Linked DNA regions of Homo sapiens. The protein of the gene in region 2 purifies or fractionates together with the protein of the main gene of each other region. This does not show direct contact. Each region holds a gene or a part of one and is shown on either strand. Other genes may lie near its edges. The genes, in order: SPTB and ACOT6.

What was found.
Region 1: the proteins of ACOT6 (region 2) and SPTB purify together in Homo sapiens (affinity purification with mass spectrometry; one large-scale study listed by BioGRID and IntAct). This does not show direct contact.

Annotation. Positions count from the first base shown.
Region 1 is NC_000014.9:64,771,792-64,775,611, reverse strand, and holds part of SPTB (spectrin beta chain, erythrocytic), read left to right. Parts: exon of another isoform or gene 1-193; intron 194-208; coding exon 209-487; intron 488-1,084; coding exon 1,085-1,215; intron 1,216-2,187; coding exon 2,188-2,392; intron 2,393-2,657; coding exon 2,658-3,032; intron 3,033-3,820.
Region 2 is NC_000014.9:73,615,444-73,618,199, forward strand, and holds part of ACOT6 (acyl-coenzyme A thioesterase 6), read left to right. Parts: intron 1-1,400; exon of another isoform or gene 1,401-1,550; coding exon 1,551-1,749; intron 1,750-2,756. UniProt on the Homo sapiens protein: Catalyzes the hydrolysis of acyl-CoAs into free fatty acids and coenzyme A (CoASH), regulating their respective intracellular levels.

The DNA.
Region 1 (3,820 bases), 8.8 Mb from region 2:
GCAGGCCACCTGAGGGTGCAAGAATGGTGCACATGAGGTGCTTAGCAGCCCGCAAGAGGTCATTGGTAGTTCTTATCGCCATCACCTGCTCTGCTCTAGCAACGGGGGTGAGAGGGACCAAGGGTGTCAGAGCTGTGCTGCCACTGCTGAAGCAGCCTCCCCCGCATGGTGGGAAGGCCCTGCCCCGAGCCCTTCCTTCTGGCCGCAGACACTGCAGAATGAGATTCTGGGCCATACGCCGCGGGTTGAGGATGTGCTGCAGAGAGGGCAGCAGCTGGTGGAGGCGGCGGAGATCGACTGCCAGGACCTTGAGGAGCGCCTGGGGCACCTGCAGAGCTCCTGGGACAGGCTGCGGGAGGCAGCGGCCGGGAGGCTGCAGCGACTGAGGGACGCCAACGAGGCACAGCAGTACTACCTGGATGCAGACGAGGCTGAGGCCTGGATTGGCGAGCAGGAGCTCTACGTCATCTCCGATGAGATCCCCAAGGTCTGTTCGGGCAGGGGATACCAGCCAGGGTGCCCAGGCAGAGAGGAAGAGTTGAGGTTGGCTGTCGGTAGGGAGCCTTGTGAGTCCAACTGTGTGAGGAGTGAGGCCAGGGGAGGGGCACAAGGAACCCACAGACTCCCTGCCCTCCCTTGGTGCCTCCTTGAACACACCCCTGCAGGGCACACACTGAAGCCAGGTGCCTCCTGTTTACCCACTTAGGTTTGCTCTAACCCAAGGGTTCTCTACTTTTCTTTACCCTGGATTCTGTACGCTATGAAAGAGATGGGGTGAGAGGTGACAGGTGGGGGTCTCTCAAAGCTGGAATGATATAGGATGTTTTCATGGGGACAGGGGTTAGAGCACAAAAGGAAGGGTATATGTCGGATACGAATCAGGGGAGTCCAGAGAGGAAGGTAGGGCACGGGCATTGCTGGGAAATCAGAAGGGCAGGAAGGAAGCATGTGTGGCTCTCCTGCGGGTGTCCCACAAGCCTACTCCCCTCCTCCCTCGGGCACCTCCAGGAGTGGGGGCACAACTTGCCAAGGGAGGGATCATGGCCAGACTGAGCTCTGGCGCTGACCGTCTGCTGCCTCCTAGGATGAAGAGGGCGCCATTGTGATGCTGAAGCGACATTTGCGGCAGCAGCGTGCGGTGGAGGACTACGGCCGGAACATCAAGCAGCTGGCCAGCCGGGCCCAGGGCCTGCTGTCTGCAGGCCACCCTGAGGGGTGCGTGCGCCCCCTGTGGTGACTCGGTCAGGAGATGGGGATTGAGCCAGGGGCCCACCAGCCAACGTCCCTTCAGATTTAAAAGGAAAATGGAAAGAGTTTTCCCATCAAATAGGGCTGGAGAAAATTGCTGCGGGACTGGTGATGGATCCAATTTCATTTTATGCCTTGGTTTTGTGTGAATCACTTCCAGCTGGGCCATCGAGGCCCTGGTTTTCGAAATGATCAGAGAAGGGGTTAGCAAAACTACCCTCTTGGTGACCTGAGAGCACCAATTTTCCGAAGGGTTACAATATGCTAAGGGACACTGAAGACTACTTTAGCTTTTATTTTTATGGTCCAGAAGGTCTCCAGGACTTCACAGTCCAGACAGAACCATGATGTAGGAGTGCAGGTGGAAACCTGTGCCCACATGGGCTGCGAGGTTTTGTGGATCCTGCATAAATGGAAGCCCACTGGGCCACAGACCACACACTGCCCCCAGCCATGGCCCTGTCCTCAGCTGCCATTAGGGTGCCCACCACTGTGGGTCCTCAGCAGCCACCCCAGAGGTTTCCCTGGGAGCCACATTGTCTGGGCCCCTAGTATGTCTTTTCCCTCCCTGGAGGGCTGAGCAGAGCTGTTGCTGCGGGAGCCCCACTCAGGTAGTGCTGCTCCCCCAGCCTCTCTGGAAGAACAATGGAGGCGTTCCCCATTTGCACTTGTCCCTGTAAGCTTGCCAGAGTGAGGGGCACCATGGGAAGCACCCCTCCAGGACAGAATTCCAGGACACAGTGTGTCATCCCCTGAGGCTAGGGTGTGGCCCCTTCTCTCCCCAGCTCTTCCCCGGCAAAGCCCCTGTCATTTCTCCAGAGCTTCACTCCCTACCTATCCCTGCCAGGGGGCTGTGGTTGGCATATGTTGGCTCCCTGGAGCCACGGCTCTGGGTTCGTGGCTGCCGTCTCTGAGGGCCTTTTTGGTTTTGAATTCCAGGGAACAGATCATCAGACTTCAGGGGCAAGTGGACAAGCACTACGCAGGGCTGAAGGACGTGGCGGAAGAGCGCAAGCGCAAGCTGGAGAACATGTACCACCTGTTCCAGCTCAAGCGGGAGACCGACGACCTGGAGCAGTGGATTTCAGAAAAGGAGCTAGTGGCCTCTTCCCCGGAAATGGGGCAAGACTTTGACCACGTGACTGTGAGTAGCCACAACTCCTGCTGTTTTTGTCTTTCTCTAATGCGGTAGACGCAGCCAGCCGTCACTCAAGACACACAGAGTGCTGCATAGGACGTAACCTCCCCAGTGTGAGGCGGGACCAGCCGATGCAGGCCTGCCCTGGGGAAGGTGTGACAGCGCAGCTCCCGGAGCTGCAGTTGCTGCCTGGGAAAGTCTTTGGCTAAGCTGGTGACACCTGTAACCCCTGTGCCCCCCATAACCACATTTCTGTCTGCCCCATGCCTAGCTTCTGCGGGACAAGTTCCGGGACTTTGCCCGGGAGACCGGGGCGATTGGGCAGGAGCGGGTGGACAATGTGAATGCCTTCATCGAGCGACTCATCGACGCGGGCCACAGCGAGGCGGCCACCATCGCCGAGTGGAAGGACGGGCTGAACGAGATGTGGGCAGACCTCCTGGAGCTCATTGACACGCGCATGCAGCTGCTGGCCGCCTCCTATGACCTGCACCGCTACTTCTACACGGGTGCCGAGATCCTGGGCCTCATCGACGAGAAGCACCGCGAGCTGCCCGAGGACGTGGGGCTGGACGCCAGCACGGCCGAGTCCTTCCACCGGGTGCACACAGCCTTCGAGCGGGAGCTCCACCTGCTGGGTGTCCAGGTACCTTCAGCCCCCTGCCGCCCACCTGCTACCAATTTCCAGGAGCCCTGGGTGTCAGTCCCCACCTGGCTGTCAGCAGGAAAACCTCTAGGATAAGTGCCAGGAGGTTTTGCCTCCTTAGACAGCCAGGAGCTCAGGGCTGGGAGCAGTGGCTTTCAGATGTTCCTTAGCTTCAGAAGTCATTCTTTAAACTGAATCCTCACAAAAGGCCAATGCATACAATACTATACGGTTGCAGTTTCTCCAGTTGTGCAGTACTATTAGTGGACACACGCACAGCACTTTTCTAGCACCAGGTGCTCTTCTGAGCAATGTATGTAGCCGCTGGACCCTCATGGCAGTCCTCTGAGGCAGCTACTAATATTCCCTGCACTTTGTAGATGAGAAAAGGGAGAGGTAGAAGACCCATAAGTTTCCCAGGAACATGTAGGTACGAAGTGGAGCCAGGGCTCAGACCCTGGCAGTCTAGCTATAGACCCCACATACTTAGCCACCGGGCACTTCAGCCTTTCCACATGGGAGCTGGAGAGCCCCCAAGTTCTACTGTTCAGACCCCTGCCCCATCACTGGAGTGCCCTCCGCAGATCCGTAGGGTGCCCCAGAGCTTGGTGTGATAGAAAGGGCAAATGCAAGGGGGCCCCTGTTGCTGAGGGCTCCCCCAGCTTCCAGTGCAGCAGGGAGAGGTAGGCTGGCTGCGCAATCCCAGGCCAGCCCTGCAGGGCTTGGGGACAGAACACCAGGGTTGGCTGGGCCCCTGGTTCATCCAAAAGGGGACCTCTTAGGGAAGT
Region 2 (2,756 bases):
AACAAGACTGGGCGCAGTGGCTTACGCCTGTAATCCCAACACTTCGGGAGGCCAAGGTGGGCGGATCATCTGAGGTCAGGAGTTTGAGACCAGCCTCACCAACATGGTGAAACCCCATCTCTACTAAAAATACAAAATTAGCCAGGTGTGGTGGCACATGCCTGTAATACCAACTACTCGGGAGGCTGAGGCAGGAGAATCGCTTGAACCCGGGGGGAGACGGAGGTTGCAGTGAGCCGAGATCGCACCATTGCACTGCAGCCTGGGCAACAAGAGTGAAACCTTGTCTCAACAAACAAACAAACAAACAAACAAACAAACAAACAGGCTGAGTGCAGTGGCTCGCACTTAAAATCCCAGCACTTGAAGAGGCCGAGGTGGGAGCATTGCAGTGGGAGGATTGCTTGAGGCCAGGAGTTTGAGACTAGCCCAGGCAGCATAGTGAGACCCTATTTCTATAAAAAGTTAAAAATTAGCCAAGCATAGGGGCCTAGCTACTTGGGAGGGTGGCTTCTTGAGGCTGGAGGGTCACTTGAGCCCAAGGATTCAAGGTTACAGTGATCTACAGGCTACAGTGCAGTGGTGTGATCACAGGTCACCACAAACTGGAACTCTTGGGCTCAGATGATCCTCCCGCCTCTTCCTCCTGAGTAGCTAAGACTATAGGCAAGTGCCATCATGCCCAGCTAGTTTTTTAAACTTTTTTGTAGAGATGGGTCTTGTTATGTTGCCCAGGCTGGTCGTGAATTCCTGGCCTCAAGTGGTCCTCTTATCTTGACCTCCCAAAGCACTGGGATTATAGGCATGAACCACCACACCTGGCCTCATTATGTTATTTCTAACTTGGTTTATTTTTGTTTGTGAAAATAATATTATTATTATTATTATTTTTGAGATAGAGTCTCACTCTGTCACCCAGGCTGGAGTGCAGTGGTGTGACAATAATTTATATCATTAAAAAGTTTTAGGCCGGTTGCGGTGGCTCACACCTGTAATCGCAGCACTTTGGGAGGCCAAGGTGGGCAGATCACCTGAGGTCAGGAGTTCAAGACCAGCCTGGCCAACATGGCAAAACCCAGTCTCTACTAAAAATACAAAAAAAATTAGCCGGGTGTCTGTTGCATGTCTGTAATTCCAGATACTTGGGGGGCTGAGGCAGGAGAATTGCTTGAACCCAGGGGGCAGAGGTTGCAGTGAGCTGAGATTGCACCACTGCACTTCAGCCTGGGCGACAGAGTGAGACTGTCAAAAAAAAATTTTTTTTTTAATTTCAATACCTTTTGGTGTACAGGTGGTTTGGGGTTACACGGATGAACTGTACAGTGATGAACGCTGAGATTTTAGTGCACCTGTCGCCTGAGTAGTATACATTGTACCCAATATGTAGTTTTTTATCCCTCTATATTATCATTATTGTTTGAGAAAATAAGACATTTTGTTCTTTCTCTGCCAATCTCTCTACCCCCAATCTCCTTGGCTTCAAAAACTTGTTTGCTTACTGTCTTTTGAGAAACTAAAGCTCCCTGTGATTTGTGATGTTCTCCAGGCAGGGGGCCCTTTCCTGGGATCATTGATCTGTTTGGGAGCAGCAGGGGCCTTTGTGAATACAGGGCCAGCCTCCTGGCCGGACATGGTTTTGCTGTGCTTGCCCTGGCTTATTTCAGATTTGAAGACCTCCCCGAAGATCTGAATGATGTACATCTGGAGTACTTTGAAGAAGCCGTGGACTTTATGCTGCAGCATCCAAAGGTGCGTTCTGGTGATCACCTGAGTGCAGAAGAGAGGGGATAGAGCTGATGCAGGGCTGAATCCAAAAGCCCTGCCAGAACACTGAGAACTAGAAACATGCCAGGAGATACCAAGTCTCCTTCAAAGGTTACTAGGGTGGAAGCTGGGCATGGTGATGTGCACCTGTAGTCCCAGCTACCTGGGAGGCTGAGGCCGGGGGATTGCTTGACCCCAGGAGTTCAAGACCAGCCTGGGCAACATTTAGTGAGACCCCTGTCTCAAAAAAAGTTTTTGTACTAGGATTATTATTTCCATTTTCTCCCATCTCTCTCTAATCCCTGAAGACTTGACTATTTAGTTGTCTTTGTAATTGTGGACCAAAATTCAAAGAGCACAGGACTAAAAAAAGTTCCAGCTCTGCATCTACCACAGAGTGGCCTTATGATTCTGAATAAGGCAGTTACTCTCTCTGGAGTTCAATTTTCCTCCTTAATAAGATTAATGTAAATGTATATAGAGAAAATGACTATAAAGAGATATTTTTTGAGACAACTGGAGACATTTGAATGAGAATGGTGTATTTGATTATATGAAGTAATCATTAATTTTGTTGGGTATGATAATGGTATTATGGTTTTGTAAAGAAAGTCCTTATCTGATAACAGAAATAATTAATTAATTAAAACATTTTGGCCAGGTGCGGTGGCTCACGTCTGTAATCCCAGTACTTTGGGAGGCCAAGGCGGGCAGATCACCTGAGGTCAGGAGTTTGAGACCAGCCTGGCCAACATGGTGAAACCCCATCTACTAAAGATACAAAAATTAGCTGGGCATGGTGGTGCACACCTGTAATCCCAGCTACTCGGGAGGCTGAGGCAGGAGAATTGCTCGAACTCAGGAGGCAGAGGTTGCAGTGAGTCGAGATTACACCATTGCACTCTAGACTGGGCAACAAGAATGAAACCCCATCTCAAAAAAAAACCCAACAACAACAACGACAACAAATTTTGGTATAATTAAAAATGGAA